Linked DNA regions of Homo sapiens. The protein of the gene in region 2 purifies or fractionates together with the protein of the main gene of each other region. This does not show direct contact. Each region holds a gene or a part of one and is shown on either strand. Other genes may lie near its edges. The genes, in order: USP1, KPNB1, RANGAP1, KIFC1, NCBP1, POM121C and TSR1.

Region 1 (2,628 bases), on a different chromosome or scaffold from region 2:
CCCAAAGTGCTAGGATTACAGGTGTGAGCCACCCACGCCCAGCCCATTTTAGTCATTTTTAGTGTGAAGTTTTTCTCTACCAAAATTTGGGAAAGTAAATAAAATAGTATTTTATACTATTAGCAAAGGGAAGGTCCACTGAATAAGGGGCTATATGTTATCTTTTGACATAATCAAGTGTGAGAGAGCTACTGTGAAGCCCTCGTGGTAATTTCAAACAAGCAACTAATGTACAAAGGAGTCACACATACAATGACATTACACATGTCAGAAAAAAACAGACTATCCAAAACAATCAGCATTTTTTTTCAAACTGTTGAAAGACTAGTTTGATTTCCTGGCTTACCTTAAAACTAGGAAGAATTTAGCCTTTCCCGCCCCTTCAAAAAAATCTTGATGTATACAAAATTTGTTCCCTGCTTTAGTCAGTTCTACTGAATTCTGCTACTAACATCTAAGAGGGAATGAATATGAAAAGATGAATAAAGAAACTGGCCGGGCATGGTGGCTCACGCCTGTAATCCCAGCACTTTGTGAGGCTAAGGCAGGTGGATTGCTTGAGTCCAGAAGTTCAAGATCAGACTGGGCAACATGGTGAAATCCTGTCTCTACTAAAAATACAAAAAATTAGCTGGGCATGGTGGCATGCACCTGTAGTCCCAGCTACTCAGAAGGCTGAGGTGGGAGAACCACCTGAGCCTGGGAGGTCAAGACTGCAGTGAGCTGAGGCTGTGCCACTACACTCCAGCCTGGACAACTGGAATGAGACCCTGTTTCAAAAAAAAAAGGAGAAGAAATCATACTTAATAGAATATGTATTCATATCAAAAGGATTTAAGTTGTTTCATTTTTACAGGGAAACTGTTAATAAGAACAAAACTTTACTGAAGCAATCTTTACAATCTACTTCATTTCAGTACTTTATATTCCTACTATTACAGCATTTTGAACAAGACTTATCTTCTACAGCAGCTCATTTTCTTCATATAGTTCTTATTTACAATACTTACTCCAAACCACTAGCAGCAAAGCACTTCAAATGAATAGTTATAACTTCAGGCATTTTGTCAAACAAAAGACTTCGTTCAGCTTCAGTATAATGATGGCAGTTTTCACAGAAATATTTATCTTCTCCTACAATCCTTTCTACTGAAGCAAATTGTGAAATTGCCCATCTCAGGGTCTTCATTTCTGTTTTTGGCTCTGGAGAAACTAAAAAAGAGAATCCTTTCACTCAAATACTTCTCTCAGGCATTCAAAAAATAAACCACAAAGTTTCAGGTTCAAAATTAGCATTTAATTTCAATTGACCGACCCATTCCTAAATAACTAAAGAGATTTTTACTTTCAGAAACTACTTTCATAAGTGCATCCTCAACAGTATACATACCTTTTAAATATATTTGATCGGCCAAAAAATATGATAGACAGCAAAAACAAAATAAGCCTAGTCTGTTTACATTTAATTGCCAACTTTCAATATGTGATAGGTAAACCTGTCTCATGATTATTTCCTATGGTATTTCCATATTTTGTGGTATGCTCTAGACACAACAGTGGCTCAATTATTGTGTTAAAAACAACCTCAGTAGGCCAGGCGCGGTGGCTCACGCCTGTAATCCCAGCACTTTGGGAGGCCAAGGCGGGCGGATCACGAGGTCAGGAGATTGAGACCATCCTGGCTAACATGGTGAAACCCCGTCTCTACTAAAAATACAAAAAATTAGCCGGGCGTGGTGGTGGGCACCTGCAGTCCCAGCTACTCAGGAGGCTGAGGCAGGAGAATGGCATGAACCCAGAAGGCGGAGCTTGCAGTGAGCCGAGATCACGCCACTGCACTCCAGCCTGGGCAACCGAGCAAGACTCCATCTCAAAAAAATTAAAAAAAACCCTCAGTAGCTCTGAAAGACTCAGGTTCCCAAAAGTACACTTATTAAAGCATTTCAGTTTTCCATTCTAACACACTCTACATCAAAATCAAGATGTCACAATTTCCCAAATGCTAACCATTTATAAGTGAAGCCAGATAAGCAGAAAGGTTACATTAGACACTAAAAGCTAGCTTTTTTCCCCTCCCTAATTACACCAGCTACTATTAAACTTTGTGTTGTTAAAGAATTATAAATATTCCATCATGGTCCACACAAGACTCCAATTTTGCTTACTTTCAGAACTCTCCTCTACTTTGGAAAGCTCATCTTCTTGTACTGGCACACTGATGTCTTGAAAATCTTCTCTTCTTTCTGTTAAACTTTCACATTCCAAGCAACGCGTCCTTAATACCAGCTGACCTTGAAATAATTTCTCCACTAGCTCAAAACCAATTTGTTCTTCACCTAAAATGAAAATAGGAAAATGTAAGTCTATACAGATTAGTTTCTCATTATAGTCCAAATAACCAATTTTCCATTTAAATAAAGTATATCATGAATAACAGTTCCATTTTCATAGATCAGCTTATTAGCATTATTAGCTTATTAGAGGTACCCTATTAATGAAATTTAAGGTCCCTGTAAAGATAAAACTGACTATGAAATTACTGTCTTTAAAAGAAGTCAGTTGTAGGCCGGGCACAGTGGCTTAAGCCTGTAATCCCAAGACTTTGGGAGGCTGAGGCGGGCAGATCAC
Region 2 (3,500 bases):
GATAATCTGACATCTCTCATCATCCTGTTTGATAATCTGACAACTCTCTAAGCAGCAGAGTACTTTCAACCATACCTGCCATTTCATTTCTGTTTCCTTTCACAGAAAGACGTTTAGCCCCATTCCTTCCTTATTTGAACTTCCTCCCCTTAACCAATTACATTAGCCTATACTGACTCAGCATTTAGGCTGCCTACCTTCCTTCCCTCTTGCCCTCTACTCAGCAATGATACTTCTTACAGCCAAAAACTCTCTACCTTAATCAAAACTTCTTGTCCCCAAGCAATTCAAGAAAGCAACCCAAGTCCAGATAGTTTCCCCACTGGGTTACCATGACTGTTCTAAGTGGTTCAGGAACCAGTAACCATAAGTCAAGTGTTCCCACTGGCTCTTGCAGTTGGAATCTCCCCCACATTTTAATTGAATAAATTAGAAAGAAAATCAGAAAAAGCATTCCAGTGAGGCAGATTGATTTCTCTCCCACACCTTCTACTTTCTTGCCAGTGGCGCAGGCAAGCTCCTTTTCTCACCAGCAAGAAAATCCCTTACCCAGCACACATTTGAAGCCACTCTGGGTTCAGCACTGAGACCCTCAATCAGACACTGTAGCAGGGGAGCCAAGTAGACATCATTGATGGCAGCTTCAGGAAGCAGCTCACAAATTCTGCCTACAGTCCATGCAGCTGTATCTCGAACAACTACACTGGGGTCTTTCATTAATTCTATTAGGGTGGGCATAGCCTGAAAATATAACAGTTATTAGCAAAGCAAAACAAAGATTAAAATTCATGTTAACTACTACCCCAGAGAAAGAAATACTGATGGATGGCTTAACTCAAAAAAGTCACCAAGATACTTCTGTAATTTTACAGGACATGGTGTGAAACATCTTTCAAAATATTTGAAAATATCTTTCAAAACTCCAGTTTAGAGTTTTATATTAAGAATTTGGTGTAAATGCTTTTAGTAGTCTGCAATAAATTACTCAGATAGAGGCCGGGCATGATGATGGCTCATGCCTGTAATCCCAGCACTCTGGGAGGCTGAGGCAGGCAGATCACTTGAGGTCAGGAGTTGCTTGAGGTCAGGAGTTCAAGACCAGCCTGACCAACATGATGAAACCCGGTCTCTCTACTAAGAATACAAAAATTAGCTGGGCATGGTGGCACATAGTCCCACCTACTCAGGGGGCTGAGGCACGAGAATTGCTTAAGCTGGGGAGCTGGAGGTTGCAGTGAGCCTAGATTGCACCACTGCACTTCAGCACTCCAGCATGGGTGACAGAGTAAGACTCCATCCCCCCGCCTCCCTACCTCAAAAAAAAAAAGAATTACTCAGATACTCAGAATTCTCAGGATGCAGCTATGATGGCATCTGGCTATATCCAGAAAGACTGAAGACTGAATTCTTTAAGCACTAAACTCAACTATAACAAACTCTTTTTTTTTTTTTTGAGATAGAGTTTCGCTCGTTGCCCAGGCTGGAGTGCAATGGCACGACTTGTAATAGCAAAACAAGCACAACATTTCCATAAGAACATTTTCATTACATAAAGGACATTTTGTCCAAAGAATAGAATAATAATGCCATTATTAAAAATTATGGGGAATCAGTGCTAGGTGCAAAAAAAAATTATTGGGAAATGTTTACAACATAGTATTAAATGAAGAAACAAGTTATAAAACAATCTGCACAGGAAGAGCCTGTTGCACACACATGCACATAGGAAAAAGCTTCAAGGATAAATACAGAGTTAAGAGTGGTATTTCTGGGCAATGAAATTAAAGATGACTTTTCTCTTTTGGCTTCTTTCACATGTCTCTGGATCATGCTGACTTATGTAATTAAAAACCTAAGAAATATATTTTACCCTCATTAAAAGTAAACAAGTATCTAGAGATAATCTTTGTAGATGACAATTTACAGTTTTGTTTTGAAAAATAAAGATATGCTTTAAGTTTAAACAATAAATATCCTACTTTCTACTCCAAAAATCCCTCAGTTTCACCTGTATAACTAGTGGTTTGAGCTGACTGGGCTCTGGTCCTTCCAAGATACAACCAAAAGCCATCACTGCTGCATCCCGGTACCGCCAATCTGGGTTCTTGATGTGTTCTTTAATGAAGGGGAGGACATGTGGGACAATGTCATCTTCACAGCAGGTGGCCAGAAGCATGAGGCACACCCCTGCTGCTTTGCAGGGGTTCCAGTCATCGTCATCATCATTTTCGTCCTGGTGAAAGAATATGGCACTAGTTAAGATTTTGTCCAAAGAATCATTTTAACTCTAAAGGTCCTCTGACTACTCTTGAATGTCTTTAGAACTTAAACTCCAGGGAAATAAAATATAAGACCTTTATATTTTGTCTCTTCCACAAACATTCATCACAGCATAGCCTTTGTTAAACAAGATTCAGATGGAAGAAGATTCCATTTAGTACTACACAACAAGAATGAAAAAATTTCAACTACATCCAAAAAGAATGAATTCCAAACATTTAGAACAAAATACAGAACTAGAATGTATGCTGTATGATTCCAGTTATGTAAAGTCCAAAATCGGCCAGGCGCGGTGGCTCATGCCTGTAATCCCAGCACTTTGGGAGGCTAAGGTGGGTGGATCACCTGAGGTCAGGAGTTTGAGACCAGCCTGGTCAACATGGTGAAACCCCATCTCTACTAAAAATACAAAAATTAGCTGGGTGTGGTGGCACGTGCCTGTAGTCCCAGCTACTCAGGAGGCCAAGGCAGGAGAATTGCTTGAACCTGGAAGGCGGAGGTTGCAGTGAGCCGAGATTGTGCCACTGTGCTCCAGCCTGTGTAACAGAGTGAGACTCTGTCAGAAAAAAAAAAAAACATAGTATTAAAAATAATAATAAATAAAGTCCAAAATCAACAAAAATTAACCTATGGAATAAAAGACCAGGAAAGTAAGGGAGTTTCATGACTGGGAAGAAGACATGATTCAATCAAAAGTTCAAAAAAGAGGCAAGGTGCAGTGCAGTGGCTCATGCCTGTAATCCCAGCACTTTAGGAGGCCAAGGCAGGCAGATCACTTGAGGTCAGGACTTCGAGACCAGCCTGGTAAACATGGTGAAACCTCGTTTCTACTAAAAATACAAAGACTAGCTGGGTATAGTGGCACACACCTGTTAATCCCAGCTACTCGGGAGGCTGAGGCAAGAGAATCACATGAACCAGGGAGATGAAGGTTGTAGTGAGCCAAGACCGCCCCACTGCACTCCAGCCTGGGTGATAGAGCAAGACTCTGTACCCCCCAACGCCACCCCAAAAAACCAAAAACCAAAACCACAAAAGTTCAAAAAAGAAAAGATTCCACTAATATCTCCTCTTAAGTTAGAATCCAAGGTATAGCTTCCTAATTGTGGCCATTCACACCACATAGTAAACTTAAGGCAGGTTGCCTATGCAGTTTCAGAAAATCACACAAAGAATAATTTGTTCTCAAATAGGAAAAGCACAATAAAAATATAAGAAAG
Region 3 (3,500 bases), on a different chromosome or scaffold from region 2:
TGGGACTGCAGGCTCACACCATCACGCCTGGCTAATTTTTTTTTTTGAGACATAGTCTTGCTCTGTTGCCCAGGCTGGAGTGTGGTGGTGCAATCTCAGCTCACTTTAACCTCTGCCTGGGTTCAGGCAATTCTCATGCCTCAGCCTCCTGGGTAGCTGGGACTACAGGTGTGTACAACCATGCCCAGCTAATTTTCTTTTCTTTTTGTTTTTTTTTTGAGATGGAGTCGTGCTCTGTCACCCAGGCTGGAGTGCAGTGGTGCAATCTCGGCTCACTGTAAGCTCTGCCTCCCTGGTTCACGCCATTCTCCTGCCTCAGCCTCCTGAGTAGCTAGGACTATAAGCACCCACCACCATGCTCCGCTAATTTTTTGTATTTTAGTAGGGATGGGGTTTTACCATGTTGGACAGGCTGGTCTAGAACTCCTGACCTCAGGTGATTCGCCCGCCTCAGCCCCCAAAGTACTGGGATAACAGGCGTGAGCCACTGTGTCTGGCCTTCAGCCTATTTTTGTGTTTGTATTTTTATTATTATTATTTTTTTTGAGACGGAGTCTCGCTCTGTTACCCAGGCTGGAGTGCACTGGCATGATGTTGGCTCACTGCAGGCTCCGCCTCCTGGGTTCATGTCATTCTCCCACCTCATCCTCCTGAGTAGCTGGGACTACAGGCGCCCGCCACCACGCCCGGCTAATTTTTTTGTATTTTTAGTAGAGACGGGGTTTCACCGTGTTAGTTAGCCAAGATGGTCTCGATCTCCTGACCTCATGATCCTCTCACCTCGGCCTCCCAAAGTGTTGGGATTACAGGCGTGAGCCACCGTGCCCGGCCCCTTATTTTTGTATTTTTAGTAGAGACGGGGTTTTGCCATGTTGGCCAGGCTGGTTTTGAATTCTTGACCTCAGGTGATCCGCCCACTTTGACCTCGTTTATCACTTTTGATGCTTGCGTCACCCTTGTGGGAGATAGATTGGAATGTTGCTGTTTTATAAATGAGAAAAAGGAATTTAGGAGACTTTAAGTAACTTGACCAAGGTCACACATTTGATAAATAGCAGAGCTAGGATTTTCACAGAGGTTCAGTGAAATCCCTATTCCTGTGCTTCTAATTAGACATTGAGCTCCGTTTAGGAAACAGAGATTTGATGGCAAATGCCATTTATTGAACACCGTGTCAGATAAGGGTATTAAGTGCCAGATAAATAGTATCTCAGTTTATCTTCACAAAATCCTTTGAGATAGATTGCATTTCCATTTTGCAGATTGGAAAACTGAGGTTTAGGGAGGTGGTATGACATGCCTAAGGGCACAGCTTTAATGAGTAGAGCTGGGATTAGAACTCAAGTTTGGGCCAGGTGCGGTGGCTCACGCCTGTAATCCCAGCACTTTGGGAGGCCGAGGTGGGCAGATCACCTGAGGTCAGGAATTCCAGACCAGCCTGGCCAACATGGAGAAACCCTGTCTTTACTACAAATACAAAAATTAGCCGGGCGTGGTGGTGGACACCTGTAATCCCAGCTACTCTCCGGAGGCTGAGGCAGGAGAATCGCTTGAACCCGGGAGGCGGAGGTTGCAGTGAGCCGAGATGGCACCACTGTACTCCAGCCTCGGTGACAGAACGAGACTATCTCAAAAAAAAAAAAAAAAAACTCAAGTTTGGCTGGCTCTGAAATCCATCCAGTTAACTTCTTTACTCTCCCAGCACAGGCTGAATGTGGTGTCTCCCATTTTGTAAGTCCCCAGGGGTGCCCAGCTTACCCAGCTCCTAAGAAGCAGCAAATCTGGAATAGGAATGATATACCCAGGTAACTAAGTGAAGGCAAAATGTGAATATACTCTATGAAAACAAGTGAAAAGGCTCTGGGAAGTAAGGCAGGGAGAGGTCTCACTTTTACTTTAAGAGCACCCAGGAAGTCTTTTCATCCCTTGCCAAGGCTTGGCTGGCACTGACCAACCCTGAATCCCCTGGCATCTGGAAGTGAAGGTACCCGCATCAGTGAGCCATCCTTGGGTTCTGGCCCAACCAGGGAAACTTGGACCCACCTTGGACAACTTCTTAGGGAGCCCCTGCTAGGTTATAAGTCCTTTCTCAAGACCCTTCTTGACCAGAAGGTCAAGTTCAAACTTTATCTCCCATACCCATCTCTATCTCTTCCCTCCCACATGTCACCCTACTCCATCCTGTACCAGCCAGACTCAACTTTTTGTTTCATGTAAGTTTTGGTTTTGTTCAGATTATACAATTAATGCAGGTTTATTATAGAATACAGAAACATTCAAAGAACAGGGAAAAAATATATCCTCACTTTCGGCCGGGCGCGGTGGCTCACGCCTGTAATCCCAGCAGTTTGGGAGGCCGAGGCGGGCGGATCACGAGGTCAGGAGATCGAGACCATCCTGGCTAAAACGGTGAAACCCCGTCTCTACTAAAAACTACAAAAAATTAGCCGGGCGTAGTGGCGGGCGCCTGTAGTCCCAGCTACTTGGGAGGCTGAGGCAGGAGAATGGCGTGAACCCGGGAGGCGGAGCTTGCAGTGAGCCGAGATCCCGCCACTGCACTCCAGCCTGGGCAACAGAGCGAGACTCCGTCTCAAAAAAAAAAAAAAAAAAAAAAAATCCTCACTTTCATATAACCCCAGGGATATAACTACTATTACTTTCAGGGCATTTTATTTCTAACACAGTCTTTTTTTTTTTTTTTCTGAGAAACAGTCTCGCTCTGTAGCCCAGGCTGGAGTGCAGTGGCAAGATCTCGCTCACTGCTACCTCCGCCTCCTGGGTCCCAGTTCAAGCAATTATGCCTCAGCCTTCCGAGCAGCTGGGATTACAGGCATGCGCTACCATGCCCAACTAATTTTTGTATTTTTAGTAGAGACGGGGTTTACCATGTTGGCCAGGCTGTTCTTGAACTCCTGAACTCCTGACCTCACGATCCGCCCGCCTTGGCCTCCCAAAGTGCTGGGATTACAGGCGTGAGCCACCGCGCCCAGCCTAGTCTTTTTTTTTTTCCTGAACATAGCTGAGTTCATTTTGTTTTGTTTGTTTTTTGAAACGGAGTTTCGCTCTTGTTGCCCAGGGATTAGTGCAATGCCACGATCTCGGCTCACTGCAACCTCTGCCTCCCAGGTTCAAGCAATTCTCCTGTCTCAGCCTCCCTAATAGCTGGGATTACAGGCATCCACCACCACACCCGGCTAATTTTTGTATTTTTAGTTAGAGACAGGGTTTCATCATATTGGACAGGCTGGTCTCAAACTCTTGACCTCAGGTGATCCTCAGGCCTCAGCCTCCCAAAGTGCTGGGATTACAGGTGTGAGCCACTACTCCCAGCCCATTTTGTTTTTAATTGGGATTATATTATAGATCTTTTAAAAGCTGCTATATAACCTGATATATTGAGAACATTTTACTTCAAATAGTTAAAAACACACAATCACCCATTATCCTACCAGCTAGAGAGAACTGCTATAGCATTTGGTTTCTATGTTTCTAGACCTTGT
Region 4 (3,500 bases), on a different chromosome or scaffold from region 2:
ATAGGCAAAGATGCATACTGGATAGCCATCCAGGGCTGACTGGACAAGCATGGCAATCTCTTCAAACACTTCATCCTGTCCACTTCCTGGTGGGAATACCCGGTCAAAGGAAAAATCATGGCGAGTTGGGGGAGCTGGTGCCCCACTCAGGGTCCCACGCCGCTCGTCAGACCGGGAGAGGCTAAGGCGGGTTGGAGGATCAGAGGGCCCACCAGGGCCAGAGGGAAACAGGAGGAGGCCAGGGGGTGGAGTGGGCTCCCCCGGCAGGACAGGGCGGACCCGGCAGAATACACGGATGTTGCCCTTGAGTTCCTGCAGCTGGTTGTGCAGTCGCCGGCGCTCCATTTCTAGCCCATGAAGACGTTCTTCCCGCTCAGTCAGTAAGGCTGCCTGGGCCACAGTCTCCTGCCGCAGAGATGCCACCTCTGCTTGGCTGCTTGACAGGGCTGCTTCTGATGTCTGCAGCCTCCTCTGCCCAGAAGAGAACACAACATACACAGAGGGTAAGATGCAACCAAGAAGAAGAACAAACTGTGGGGCGTATGGAGTGGGTGGAAGTGAGGTCCCTGCTCAAAAGGACCTCAAAGTCTGGTAAACAAAGAAAGATGAGAAAATAAGGAATCATGGTACTAAGACAGGGAGTGCTATGGGTATGTCCAAGCACAAAGAGGAGCACAAGGAAGATGATATCTAGGGTGACACCCAGAAGTACAGGAGTGAACCAAGGAAGGATGTAGTATACAAAGAACATTCCAGAAAGAGGGAAGCACATATGCAGAATGCCCAGAAGTGAAAGTTGAGTCATTTAAGAGACTGCAAATAACTTAATCTAGTTGGTGCTCACCAGGAAGGAGTCAAGTGGACATGGGAGGAGGGAAAGAGAGTACCACAGGAATTTGTGATCAGGATGGGAACCCAAAGAAAGAGGGATGGAGGACTAAGAAAGACACAGATCTAAATGAGAGCTTTGCAAACAGTCAAGGGTAGGAAGAAGCGTGGCAGAAAGCAAGACAGTCAGGAGTGGGCTGGGGTGCAGACAGGTCAAGAGAGAGGTATCTTCAGCAGCACCTATACTGCTAAAGATAGGTGCTCAGGAGTTCTCAGCCCAGACTTGAGGGGTACCTGGAAGGGAGGGGAGGCATGACCTCTGCCAGGAAAGCGGGGCTGACATCTGGTGAAAATCTGGCCCTTACCTCCTTCTCCTCTAGTTGGGACATCAGTCCCCTCCGTTCTTCCTGCAATTCCACCTGTTTTTTCTGAAGCTCTTGCACCAAGCCCTCCTGCGTGCTCAGCCGCTCTTCCAGCTCCAGGACACAAGCACGCAAGTTCTTCAGCTCCTGTTGGCCCTGCTCAGCCTGGGCCTGTACCTTGGCTAAATGCCCCTCCAGTGTTGTGCGCTCTGTCCCCAGGGCCTTGACCTGCTGCTGGGCATCTCTGAGCTGGTCCTGAAGCTGCTGGTTCTCTTGGTCCAACGTTTGAGTCCTCTCACGGCACCGTTTTAGTTCTGCATTTAGGTCACATAACTGACCCTTTAAGTCCCAGGCTGGACGTTTGCTGGGTTTCTTCCCTCCTGCCATGGGAGGAACACCTGATGCTAAGATGAACACAGAAAGGACAAAGGTCAGTGAAGTCTAGGCTCTCTATCCCTCCTCCCTTCTAGCCTTTATGGGATCCACACCTGATGCTACATCTCCTTCCCCTTAGAGACCAAATGGATTTTTCTGGTCACTCACCATCTTCTCTTCCCTATCCCAGCCTCTCACCCAGTGGTTATGTTTGTCACTTACTGCCAGACTTCTGGACAGGAACAGCAGGAACTGGCTTCTGGTTCTTCAACCCTACAGAATTGAGGAGGTGACTTAGGAATTACAGGACCAGTGTCCCTCCACCTCCATCATTCTCCCTTTACACATACCCCAAATCCCTTCTCAGACCCAGCTCTTGAGCACAGTTACCTGTGGCAATAGCTGTGGAACACCGGGGTCCTGTCTTCTTGGAAACTTTTTGAGCTGCCCAGGAGATGGGAGAGAGCAAAGGTAGAATGATCATTCTTAAGATGGCATGTACACTTGCTAGGACAGGGGCAGAAGAAGTGCTTTTCTCAGAATTAGAAATAGGATAACTTCCTTCCCTTATCCCTAAGTCTGGCCAGCTCCTAATGATACCTCCCCTAGAACCAGAAATTACAGTCATCCCTCAGTATCCAAAAGGGGTTGATTCCAGCACCCCCCAAGAATACCAAAATCCAAGGATGCCCAAGTCCCTTACATAAATAGGTATATAGTATTAAATATAGTCTATGCACACGCTCCCATATACTTTATTTATTGATTGACTGAGACAGAGTTTCACTTGTTGTCCAGGCTGAAGTGCAATGGCATGATCTCAGCTCACAGCAAACTCTACCTCCAGGGTTCAAGCGATTCTCCCGCCTCAGCCTCCCGAGTAGCTGGGATTATAGGTATGCGCCACCACGCCCAACTAATTTTGTATTTTTAGTAAAGACGGGGTTTCACCATGTTGATTAGGCTGGCCTCAAACTCCTGACCTCTGGTGATCTGCCTGCCTTGGCCTCCATTTTGTTTTTTTTTTGAGATGGAGTTGCACTCTTCTCACCCAGGCTGGAATGCAATGGCGCGATCTCAGCTCACTACAACCTCCACCTCCAGGGTTCAAGCAATTCTTCTGCCTCAGCCTCCTGAGTAGCTGGGATTACAGGCAAGCGCCACCACGCCTGGCTAATTTTTTTTTTTTTGTATTTTTAGTAGAGACAGGTTTTCAGCATGTTGGCCAGGCTGGTCTCAAACTCCTGACCTCAGGTGATCTGCCTGCCTCAGCCTCCCAAAGTGCTGGGATTACAGGCGTGAGCCACCACATCCAGCCGCATATACTTTAAATCATCTTTAGATTACTTATAATATCTAACACAATGTAAATGCTATGTTAATACAGTCATGTGCCCATAATGACATTTCGGTCAATGACAGACTGCATATACAACAGTAGCCCCGTAACATTATAATGGAGCTAAAAATTCCTATTGCCTAGTGACATTATAGCCATGGTAATGTCATAGCATTCCTCACCTGTTTGTGGTGATTCTGATATAAACGAACCTAATGCACTGCCAGTTGTATAAAAGTATAACACATATAATTACATATAGTACATAATACCTAATAATGATAATGACTATGTTACTAGTTTATATATTTACCGTACTGTACTTTTTATTGTTATTTTAGGGTATACTCCTTCTATTTGCAAAAACAGTTAACTATAAAACAGCCTCAGGCATGTCATTCAAAAGGCATTCCAGGCCAGGCACTGTGGCTCACGCCTGTAATCCCAGCACTTTGGGAGGCCGAGGTGGGCAGATCAAGGGGTCAGGAGATTGAGACCATCCTGGCTAACACGGTGAAACCCCGTCTCTCCTAAAAATACAAAAACAAAATTAACCAGGCGTGGTGGCGGGCACCTGTAGTCCCAGCTACTCCGGA
Region 5 (3,500 bases), on a different chromosome or scaffold from region 2:
GGTGATTTACATTAAGACAAATTTGAGAGCTACTCTTCCAACTAGTAACACTTTTATTACTAACAAGTCATGTCTTAAAGATACTACTTAAAAATACTTTGAAGATAAAATTTCAAATGGAGAACACCTTCAGTAAGAAACCACCAGTTTTAGAGTAGAGTGAGATGATAAATCATGAAATGCCAAAGTTTAAAAACCATACTTTTAGTTTTATTTCAGCCATGTTAATTCATCCCCGAGCTGTGAAAAGTTATGCTACTGGGTAGCTGGGTAAACCCATCAGTTCTATATACTATGTAAGGTTGACCTCTAGTGTTTCACATACCTCAAACCAATTATTTTGTGCCTTAAGGAGAAAAAAAATAACAAACTGATCACAGAGAATTTGTATCTGTCACATATATAATATATCATGGTCATAGTCACATTACTGCCGTTAGGAAGTATTTGCTTTTCAGGGCAATTAAAAGTAATGCCATGTTCATTCACTGTCCTCTTCCCCTTTGTTTCCTTTAAGAAGTGAAAGGATACTACAAGAAAGCAAGCATTCAAACCATCAAAAAATAAGACAAATTATTTTAAGATATCAAAAAAAACCTTGACATGAGGAAAAAATGACCCTTAGGCCTGCAGGGCACAGAACTGCTGGAACACGGCCAAGATATGAGGGTCTAATTCAGCAGTGAAGAGAAGGTTCTCCAGGGTCACCATGTACTGCTGGATTATTTGGTGATGCTGTGGACACACAAAAGGGGGTAGTTAGGTCAGGAAAAAGCATATAAGCAATCTTGTGGAACATTTCCTTCAGCAGCCCACCCATGCTGCAGAATGATGAAAAGAGGAAGGGGAAAAAAAAGTGCTGATAGGAACAATGGACCCCTGAAAATCCCCAACATTAAAAAAATAAAAAGGGAAATGAAAAAAATGGATGCTCAATAGCTTTTTAAAAAATCCAGTTCTTACCAACTTCTATGTAAACAGAATTCATGATTCAAGGCAGTGGCAGCAGTGCCTGCTTGCTCCTAGTACTATTACGGACTAGGCTCAGCTAGCTCTCTCCCCAGTCAGGGCATAATACATTGTAACTTTTTAAAAAGCAGCCAGACGGACTGACAGGAAGATAAACAGTCAGAAAACGAAATACTCTTGTCTATGTGTTCCTCTATAAGCCATGAATACTCTCAGAGATTCTTATAGGACTAGAGACTGTTAAAGCTTTTAAAACTGGCAGTAACTATAAAATCAGAGGGAATTCCTATTTGGAGGCTCAAAGAATTGAACTTAGAGTGACTTCTACATTAATCATTCTTCTAGAATGAACAAATGAAGATTTAGGGGAGTAGTGTCCGAAGATACAATGAATTAGCTCCACTCTCCTATATACCTTTAACTTAAATCTAGGTGAGAATAGGTGCCGGCATTTTGCTTTTGCAGAGAGACCCCAGGGAGCTTACCTTGATTCTGTGGACAGTTTACCACCTGCACATTGGATAACACTGGCTTTTTAGGGACTTATAAATCCAATTACTGTCCTCTTGATATTTTTGTCCTCTACATTTTATATTACAGCTAGGATCCCCAGCATAGAAAATGACAATTAGGAGACTGGGCACCGTGGCTCACGCCTATAATCCCAGCAGCACTTTGGGAGGCGGAGGCCTCCTGAGGTCAGGAGTTTGAGACTAGCCTGGCCAACATGGTGAAACTCTGTCCCTACTAAAAATACAAAAATCAGGCAGGAGTAGTGACGGGTGCCTGTAATCCCAGCAATATGGGAGGCTGAGGCAGAAGAATTGCTTAAACCTAGGAGGTGGAGGTTGCAGTGAGCTGAGATCGTGTCACTGAACTCCAGCCTGGGCAACAGAGTGAGATGCCATCTCAAAAAAAAGGTGGGGCGGGGGGTTGTTGGGGGGGTGGCAATTAGGAATCTAAGTGGTACAGAATCAGTTTAAGCCTAAATATTCTGATGAGCAATGGTAGCAGCAAATGGACATGAACTAAAGGGTCTAACAGGTACTATATAACCTCCTAACAAATTTGACAAGGATTTTTTTTAATGAAAAATCTTTGTGGCTGAGAATAGTGTTATTACCTAATCGAAGTTCCCCACATACCTGTAGGAAGATCTGCTGCAGCCTCTCTATACAGTTCTTATACCATGGTGTTAATACACTGGTCCCATCAGTTTCGCATCGTACTAGGTGCTCGGTCAAGATCATGATAAACCGCTGGAAAGGGAGAAGAAGTTAAGGTAGTACTACAGACAGAATCTTATACTTTGGAAAAAAATTCATGACAAAGAAACCCCAAAGTATTGCCTGTTCCACCCTGTCTTTGTGGTGTGTGTGCCTAGCTTCCATTATTCATGAAGTCAACCTAGAAGGGCAGACTGGTAATAACATGAGTTGGTACATTCTTCCTGGCAATACATAAAGACCTTTAATGTCTTAAATTACTTATCCTAGTAATATTACTTCCTGGAATCTATTCTAACGAAGTAATCAGAAATTTTAACAGGAATCTATGCATTAAAATGTTCATGGAAGGAAAATGATCAGCAATGAGGAATAATTAAACGAGACATATATAAAAAAAGCAACCCACAATTTTTTTTCAAGCATGGAGAAATGCTCATGCGAGAATACTAAGTAAACAGCAGAGAAACTCAGACATACATGGTTGCCTCTGAGTAGTGAACTTTTATTTCCTTCCTAAATTTTTGTATTTTTAATCTCTTCTATAAATGAATGTGTATTCCTTTTACAATGAAAAATAACATTTTTAAAAACTAAAACTAAAGAAATGTATTGTTTCCTTTTATGTATAAATGTCCCAAGCCAAGATACCTGAAATATAACGAGGAAAAGATTCTTTTGTTCACTCTGAGCAGATTCCACTTTTTCCTGAAGTCGTTCTATTTGTTCCTCAAGAACCCCGTCTTTCCTGTCACTGCTTCTGTCGTCATCATCACTTCGCTATAGAAGGCAAATGAACAAAAGGAAAATACCATTTAGATTCCAGTGTGTTAAATCTCCTCCAGGGGAAGCATTTTACTGTGTCTGGCCAAATGTTAAGACTTATATTCTATAGTGAAAGTACCCCCCCACCCCGCCACCCACACATATATACCTCAAAGTCCTGTTGTGGTTCAGAGACACTGTCTTCTCATTCAGAAATTCCATGGGTTCTTATCTAGGCCAGGGAAATTTAGTGGCACTTGTCTTGGTAACAACATGGGGGGACTTGGCTACAATTTATCACTATTTGACCATTTGAGCAGTAACAACAGGGAGACAGCTTGCTAATCATTCATCTGCTAATGGGCCATACAGAAAAACTGGGCAAGTCCTATGGGCCAAGGCTGCTCATTCTTGTTATAATTTAGAAATGGCTCCAGCCGACATATAATAATTCAAAGTGGGCTGTTTAAGACTTTCTGCTGGCAATGATGGGCTCAATATACTCCTGTAAAGCTTTAATAATCCCTGCCCCCAGCTCAC
Region 6 (3,500 bases), on a different chromosome or scaffold from region 2:
AATTTTTACTGCTAACAATCTGGCCAAATCTATCTGACAAAGTCAGTAAGAAAAGCCAAATATTTAAAACTTAAATGTATGATTTATAGAATATTCTGGAAAATGCATACCTATCTACAGTGACAGAAGACAGATCAGTGGATGCCTGGGGACACGGGTGGAACTAAAGAGAGGGATTACAGGCATGTGGGAACTTTTGGAGGTCATGGATGTTCATTATCTTAGTGGTGGGATGGTTCCACAGGTGTATGCGTGTCAAAATGTCACATGCTTTAAACAAGTACAGTTATGTCAATTATACCTCAACAAAGCTGTTAAAAAAAAATCAGAGTTAAGAGGAACCCATCATTTTTCTAAACCTCCAATGGAAACAGAAATCTCCTATGCATCTTTCCTGTAGGACAGTCATCCAACCTGTTACAATATAGACAACGCTCTCCTAGAGTGACCCACGTCAACCATGAACCAGTTTATTCTCACAGTGGATTACAATGTATTTCCTCTAACTTTCACCCACGGATCCTATTTGAAGTCAAACAGAGCAAGTTATTTCGCTTCTTTCAAGGGACAGTCCTTTGGTTTTTTGGAGACCATTGTCCTTCCCTCACTTATTTCTTTATTCCTCCTGAGATTTTTCTCCTCTGGGTTAATACTTCCATACCTCCAAAACCCCATCATCCACCACCACCCCTCTGGGCTGTTGCAAATCTCCTTAACATCTTCGTTGCTTCACTGGGAATGAATTTCCGTTTGTGTACATCCTCCCTCGCAGTGCAGTACGCTGATCTGACCACAGTGCTCCACGGACAGTGAGCAGAACTACGGAAGGCAGGAATACCTGCCTCATTCTAGTCTTTCTTCTAACAGCACAGACCAGGAGCACTTTAGCTTTCCTGGTGGCCACATCACACTGCTGACTCAGATGAGGTATCTAAGTTATCCTAAGTCTTTCCACACAGACTTTTGAGCCACTTTCCTTTCCACCCAATTCTTCCTCCAATTTGTTTTTAAACTGACATGTAGAAATTAAACATTTAAGTTTCATACTGTCTTATCCGCTGCACAAACTTTGCAATCCTTCTGTGTATGTGCTTGGTTATTAAATATATTTATAAAACCTCTAGTCTCAGCATATTTCATCCATATTAATGCAAGAACATTAAAAGGAATTAGACAGAAGGCAGTTAATTGTGACAAGTTACTCAGAATATTCCTAATTTCAAAGACATGAACCTGAACTAATTAAGCAATGCAAAAAACAAAGAGGAAAATCTATAGGGCAACAGCTCTGATCAGGCCTTTTTCCAAACAGTTGGTATTTCATCTGGATGGACTCGCACTTACTTAGGCACAAAAGAAGCGGGGACTCCACTGGCCACCAGGGGCTCAAATGCTGAATGTCCACTGCCACTGCTATCATGGCGCCTGCGACAAATCAAAAAAGTCTCAAATGAAATGACATGACTTTGTTTGTCCCTTTAAAGTGTATTCTCACATTTCTGGGACCTTATACTATCTCTATGGAGCACAGATTCCATGCTAGACCAGAAAATGGTTGTTTAAAATCCCTAAGTTTCTGAAAGGTAAATTTTTTTTTTTCAGACAGAGTTTCACTCTTGTTGCCCAGGCTGGAGTGCAATAGCACAATCTTGGCTCACTGCAACAAACCTCTGCCTCCCGGGTTCAACCAATTCTCCTGCCTCAGCCTCCAGCGCAGCTGGGACTACAAGTATGCACCACCACACCTGGCTAATTTCTTAATTTTTTGTACAGGCGAGGGCTCCCTATGTTGCCCAGGCTGGTCTTGAGCTCCTGGGTTCCAGCGATCCTCCCACCTTGGCCTGTCAAAGTGTTAGGAGTACAGGCATGCACCACCATACCCAGCCTTATAAAATGGTGTTTCCCTCAAGAGTCCCATGAGAGCAGAGATTTTGTCTTGTCCACTGCTCTATCCACAGTACTTGCAGTAGGGTCTCATACACAGTGGGTGCTCAGTAAATGCTCACCCACTTCAACTTCTTTTCTTTCTGTAATTAGAAAACTATTCCATTTTCATTAGGTTATTTTACAAACCACATAAGGAATTTTTTTTTTTTTTTTTGAGACAGTCTCGCTCTGTCACCCAGGCTAGAGTGCACTGGCATGGTCTCGGCTCGCTGCAACCTCCGCCTCCTGGGTTCAAGCAGTTCTCCTGTCTCAGCCTCTGGAGTAGCTGGGACTACAGGCACCCACCACCACATCCAGCTAATTTTTGTATTTTTAGTAGAGACGGGGTTTCACCATGTTGGCCAGGCTGGTCTCGAACTCCTGACCTCAGGTGATCCACCCGCCTCGGCCTCTCAAGGTGCTGGGATTATAGGCGTGAGCCACCTTGCCCTGCCAGGAAATTGGTTTTAATCTCATTATTGATAAAACTACCAAACTCTAGTTTTCATTTTTCTTTCCCAAGCATTTCCTTCAGCACAATTAAGACACTAGAACTGGTGGGCCGGGCGCCATGGCTCAAGCCTGTAATCCCAGCACTTTGGGAGGCCAAGGTGGGCGGATCACGAGGTCAGGAGTTTGAGACCATCCTGGCCAATATGGTGAGACCCTGTCTCTACTAAAAATACAAAAAAATTAGCTGGGCATGGTGGCGGGCGCCTGTAGTCCCAGCTACTCGGGGGGCTGAGGCAGGAGAATGGCATGAACCTGGGAGGCTGAGCTTGCAGTGAGCTGAGATCGGGCCACTGCACTCCAGCCTGGGGGACAGAGACAGACTCCAACTCAAAAAAAAAAAAAAAAAGACACTAGAACTGGTGGTTACCCAAATAACTGAACACCACAAAATTCCGACCGGAAGACTTAGAGCCTTCTTTCTTGAAAATAAACTTTTAACACGTTTCTACAGAAGCATGAGGCTAACATGGCTAATAGCTGTCAGCTTATCTCTGCTACTCACAGAAAAGGTAAATTATGACATCGATCTAACCTGTGCCTTGAAATGAACAGCATTAAAACCCTTGTTATTAGGTTCTCTCATGAAAGCCAAAGAAGGAGGCCTATGAAGGCTCACAAACTGGACGTGGCCTCTGTATCTTTACGGGAATGTCTACATCTCATCCCATAGGGGTCCAAGCGGGAAACTGGCTTAGTACTCTCCTGAGCCTGTTACCTTCTTTTATTTTCCTGGCCATCAAGGAATATTTGGTCTTCTTCCTCCACTGTCCTTTTCTTCTTCTTCTCTTTGAGGGCACTCAGTACAGTCTCCTTTGCACATGGGTCTGGGGCATTACTTGATGGTGACGACAGTGTTGAGCTGATTATCTGCTCTGGTCTATAATGAAAGACAAGATTCTAGCCGTAAGATATTTTAATTCCCATGCCACATCAGAAACGGAAATCAGAAGCTAACCAACAGGCCAAAGTATAATTTATACACTCACAACAGTTCCCCTTAGCAAGTAAAGCTACTTTTTCGTTAACGGCAAAAAGTGAAAAACAAACGGTTTTACTAGAAT
Region 7 (3,500 bases), about 45 Mb from region 2:
TGCCCAGGCTGGAGTGCAATGGTGCAATCTTGGCTCACCACAACCTCCGCCTACTGGGTTCAAGCAATTCTTCTGCCTCAGCCTCCCAAGTAGCTGGGATTACAGGCATGTGCCACCACGCCTGGCTAATTTTGTATTTTTGGTAGAGACAGGGTTCCTCCATGTTGGTCAGGCTGGTCTCGAACTCCCGACCTCAGGTGATCCACCCACCTTGGCCTCCCAAAAAGTGCTGGGATTACAGGCGTGAGCCGCCGCGCCCAGCCAAACCTTTATTTTTAAGGCTGCCAACCCTTATTCAAAATCTGGTCTGAAAAACATACTTGGAGAAGTCTCAGAACCACACAGAGATTGCATCACTGAGATGCTTCAGACAGGTTCAGACGATATGAATAAAACCATCATTGACTTCTCTATTATTCTCCAATTCCTAATCATAAAGGCAGACTTTTTGCATCCCAATGAGCAAAATTTTAGTCACACATAAACAGAATTTTAGACTGTCAGAAGCAGCTGGAAAGTTTCACAACCCCCCATTTTCCCACAAGACAGCAATTTACCTTCTGTTCATGAGGTAGTAAAGAAAATGCAATCAAGGGTGTTCCTTGCCTGAAGCACTCGACCACTGAGACGGGGACTTCAGAGACATGAAGTGTGACATACCAGCCAACCTGCCACAAGAAAGCAGAAAGCAATCATGGAGTTACCTTTCAAAGTCCCAATAGCGAGGAAGCTTTCTCCAAATATGTTGAGTCTCTCAGATAAAATTTTTAAAGCCAACCCTCATCCTTCAAGATGCTTCATTTACCCAGATCACACTTTTTCATTTAACATAGCTGATACCTCTTTGTTCCCAGTATCATTCTAATCAATGACTCAGGGGCTCCCCTAATCCCCAAATGCAGCATATTTTCATGCCAAGAGAAGGAATAAAGTAGGGAGCATGTTGACAAATGAAAGCAACATACAAGATGAACAAGGAGGATAGATACCTCAGCTCCTTCAACCTCTTTTTCTTCAACCTCTTTAAAGATGCTTTTCCTAGTGTTAGTAAAGTTCTGAAACTGAAATATTCGAGCATAATCTTGAGGAAGGTTTTCCTTAGGATCCCATGGAGATGTCCGGAAGCTCTTAAGGCCTCTGTATTTCTGAAATCTAGAATATTGAAGATTTTTAAAGACATTAAGTCAGATTTATATGGTGCTATATAGACTCAAGTCACTGCTAAAATGGCTAAGGAGCTAGCTGAAAAGAACTCCAATCATCCTCTCTCCAAACAACCCAACAGCTTAAACCAAGACGACACTCCGAACAGCTTATAACAAGTTCTATCGGAACCAAACCCAAGCTTCTCACTGACAAAAAAGATGCTTGGTAATGGCCTGATACAGTTCAGATGTGTCTCCCTGCCCCAATCTCATACTGAAATACAATCCCCAGTGTTGGAGGTGGAGCCTGGTGGGAGGTGACTGCATTAGGGGAGAGGTTTTCTCATGAGTGGGTTAGCACCACCCTCCTTGTTGAGTGAGTTCTCATGAGATCTAGTTGTTTAAAGTGTGTAGCACCTCCTGCCTTGCTCTCGTTACTGCGCTGGCCGTGTGACATGACTTGCTCCCCCTCCACCTTCTGCCATGATTGTAAGTTTCTTGAGGACACCCCCAGAAGCTGAGCAGATGCCAACACCATGCTTCCTGTACAGTCTGCAGGACCATGACCCAATTAAATCTCTTTTCTTTATAAATTATGCAGTCTCTGGTACTTCTTTATAGCCATGCGAGAATGGCCTAATACATAGCCTTACCTCCTAATATCCAAAATTAATTCACTGGCTTTAGTCACTCACCTCCAGAACAGATATAATCATCTACTTCTTCACTCTTCTACTTCTGCTATTCTACCCAAACCCCCTAAAATTTCCAAACATTATATACTTCAATTGAGTACTGGCTCCTTTGGGAAGAAGTATTTGCTAATTAACCTTAGTATTTCCCCTTCATTCAAGTCCTGTAACGTGAGTCTGCACCACAGTCTAGAACTTAATTACATATGACCATTTCCCGTATGTATGTCCTGCCTTCCCATATTAAATGTTAGCTCTTCAGGAGCAGAAAAAATGTGTTTTTCTTCTTTTGCATCACAGTGACACAGCTCTGAGCCAAGTTTTTAAAAACGTATTGACTGAATTTAGATTTGTTGATAGACTTGTTGACTAACCGAATTCGAGCAGCCACATCACGGGGCGTGTCCACTTCATCTGGAAACATCTCTTCCAGTCTTTCTTGTTTATATTTCTCCAACATTTTTGCCTCAGCTTCTTCATCTACTTTCTTATCATACAGATCATCATGCACAGACTCCCCAATAGTCATAGTTTCATATTCTTCCTCTTCTTCACTACTCTCATCCTGTAGAATAGGATTACAGTTTTTTCAGAAGAAATCCACACCTGTCTCTACCCCAAAGGCCAATAAGCTAAGAGTAAAATAATTGTACTAGATCCCTATTCCCAACCAACATAAATTCTAATACAGTCTAAAGTATAAAACAAAAGCCTCATTCCTGGCAACTACAGAGTCATTCCTAAGAAACTAACCATACACGGCCGGGTGCGGTGGCTCACGCCTGTAATCCCAGCACTTTGGGAGGCCAAGGCAGGCGGATCATGAGGTCAGGAGATTGAGACCATCCTGGCTAACACAGTGAAACCCCGTCTCTACTAAAAATACAAAAAAATTAGCCAGGCATGGTGGTGGGCGCCTGTAGTCCCAGCTACTCAGGAGGCTGAGGCAGGAGAATGGCGTGAACCCAGGAGGGAGAGCTTGCAGTGAGCCCAGATCGCACCACTGCACTCCAGCCTGAGCAACAGAGCAAGACTCCGTCTCATAAAAAAAAAATAAAAAAAATAAAAAAAAGAAACTAACCACACACACCCATCAAGATCACACCTGCACTTTGCCTTACATTTGGAGCTAGACACAGAATTGGCCTAAGGCCTCATTTCCTTACCTGAGATTCCTCCTCCATAAAATCCTCATGTTCCATATCATCATATTCATATTCATCTCCTTCCCCACCACTTTGGCTGCCACCATCCAAAATCCATTCAGCTTGGTAACTGGATGTTCCTTTGGGGACCTTCTTTACCACCTTAGAACTTTCCTTCAAGAAATCTGTAAAAGCCCAAACAAATTAAGTAAATTACAGACTTCTTTTCCCTATCCCTCTGGTTATTCTCACCTAGGCAAGGCACCAGATACTGCTGCCAACATGGGAAATTCTGGCAGACACTGTAAATAGAACTACTTCCAAATTTAATTCAGCTGCCTCACAACTAGCAATACTTACACAGCTAAATAAGCCCTGCAATGAATCCAAAGTTGTTTATCTGTTCATGATAAAACATTAACACAAGTAATTTTGAGAAATGGAACAAGACTGTGTATAATGTTTGTTTATTGAAAACATACAGCATTTGAGGGTGAGGAGAGACTTTCAACTATACC

The links.
Region 1: the proteins of KPNB1 (region 2) and USP1 purify together in Homo sapiens (affinity purification with western blotting; 2 studies listed by BioGRID and IntAct, with this or other methods). This does not show direct contact.
Region 3: the proteins of KPNB1 (region 2) and RANGAP1 purify together in Homo sapiens (affinity purification with mass spectrometry; 3 studies listed by BioGRID and IntAct, with this or other methods). This does not show direct contact.
Region 4: the proteins of KPNB1 (region 2) and KIFC1 purify together in Homo sapiens (affinity purification with mass spectrometry; 2 studies listed by BioGRID and IntAct, with this or other methods). This does not show direct contact.
Region 5: the proteins of KPNB1 (region 2) and NCBP1 purify together in Homo sapiens (co-immunoprecipitation; 2 studies listed by BioGRID and IntAct, with this or other methods). This does not show direct contact.
Region 6: the proteins of KPNB1 (region 2) and POM121C purify together in Homo sapiens (affinity purification with mass spectrometry; 2 studies listed by BioGRID and IntAct, with this or other methods). This does not show direct contact.
Region 7: the proteins of KPNB1 (region 2) and TSR1 purify together in Homo sapiens (affinity purification with mass spectrometry; 3 studies listed by BioGRID and IntAct, with this or other methods). This does not show direct contact.

Annotation. Positions count from the first base shown.
Region 1 is NC_000001.11:62,447,049-62,449,676, reverse strand, and holds part of USP1 (ubiquitin carboxyl-terminal hydrolase 1), read right to left. Parts: intron 2,337-2,628; coding exon 2,166-2,336; intron 1,213-2,165; coding exon 1,011-1,212; intron 1-1,010. UniProt on the Homo sapiens protein: Negative regulator of DNA damage repair which specifically deubiquitinates monoubiquitinated FANCD2. Also involved in PCNA-mediated translesion synthesis (TLS) by deubiquitinating monoubiquitinated PCNA.
Region 2 is NC_000017.11:47,666,919-47,670,418, reverse strand, and holds part of KPNB1 (importin subunit beta-1), read right to left. Parts: intron 2,234-3,500; coding exon 2,009-2,233; intron 742-2,008; coding exon 550-741; intron 1-549.
Region 3 is NC_000022.11:41,276,188-41,279,687, reverse strand, and holds part of RANGAP1 (ran GTPase-activating protein 1), read left to right. Parts: intron 1-1,670; exon of another isoform or gene 1,671-1,792; coding exon of another isoform or gene 1,793-1,805; intron 1,806-3,500. UniProt on the Homo sapiens protein: GTPase activator for RAN. Converts cytoplasmic GTP-bound RAN to GDP-bound RAN, which is essential for RAN-mediated nuclear import and export. Mediates dissociation of cargo from nuclear export complexes containing XPO1, RAN and RANBP2 after nuclear export.
Region 4 is NC_000006.12:33,401,823-33,405,322, reverse strand, and holds part of KIFC1 (kinesin-like protein KIFC1), read right to left. Parts: intron 2,010-3,500; coding exon 1,956-2,009; intron 1,839-1,955; coding exon 1,788-1,838; intron 1,595-1,787; coding exon 1,194-1,594; intron 472-1,193; coding exon 1-471. UniProt on the Homo sapiens protein: Minus end-directed microtubule-dependent motor required for bipolar spindle formation. May contribute to movement of early endocytic vesicles. Regulates cilium formation and structure.
Region 5 is NC_000009.12:97,668,321-97,671,820, reverse strand, and holds part of NCBP1 (nuclear cap-binding protein subunit 1), read right to left. Parts: intron 2,976-3,500; coding exon 2,847-2,975; intron 2,229-2,846; coding exon 2,115-2,228; intron 736-2,114; coding exon 622-735; 3' UTR 1-621. UniProt on the Homo sapiens protein: Component of the cap-binding complex (CBC), which binds cotranscriptionally to the 5'-cap of pre-mRNAs and is involved in various processes such as pre-mRNA splicing, translation regulation, nonsense-mediated mRNA decay, RNA-mediated gene silencing (RNAi) by microRNAs (miRNAs) and mRNA export.
Region 6 is NC_000007.14:75,437,800-75,441,299, forward strand, and holds part of POM121C (nuclear envelope pore membrane protein POM 121C), read right to left. Parts: intron 3,317-3,500; coding exon 3,155-3,316; intron 1,426-3,154; coding exon 1,345-1,425; intron 1-1,344. UniProt on the Homo sapiens protein: Essential component of the nuclear pore complex (NPC). The repeat-containing domain may be involved in anchoring components of the pore complex to the pore membrane. When overexpressed in cells induces the formation of cytoplasmic annulate lamellae (AL).
Region 7 is NC_000017.11:2,329,958-2,333,457, forward strand, and holds part of TSR1 (pre-rRNA-processing protein TSR1 homolog), read right to left. Parts: intron 3,168-3,500; coding exon 3,004-3,167; intron 2,403-3,003; coding exon 2,212-2,402; intron 1,153-2,211; coding exon 990-1,152; intron 669-989; coding exon 558-668; intron 414-557; exon of another isoform or gene 322-413; intron 1-321. UniProt on the Homo sapiens protein: Required during maturation of the 40S ribosomal subunit in the nucleolus.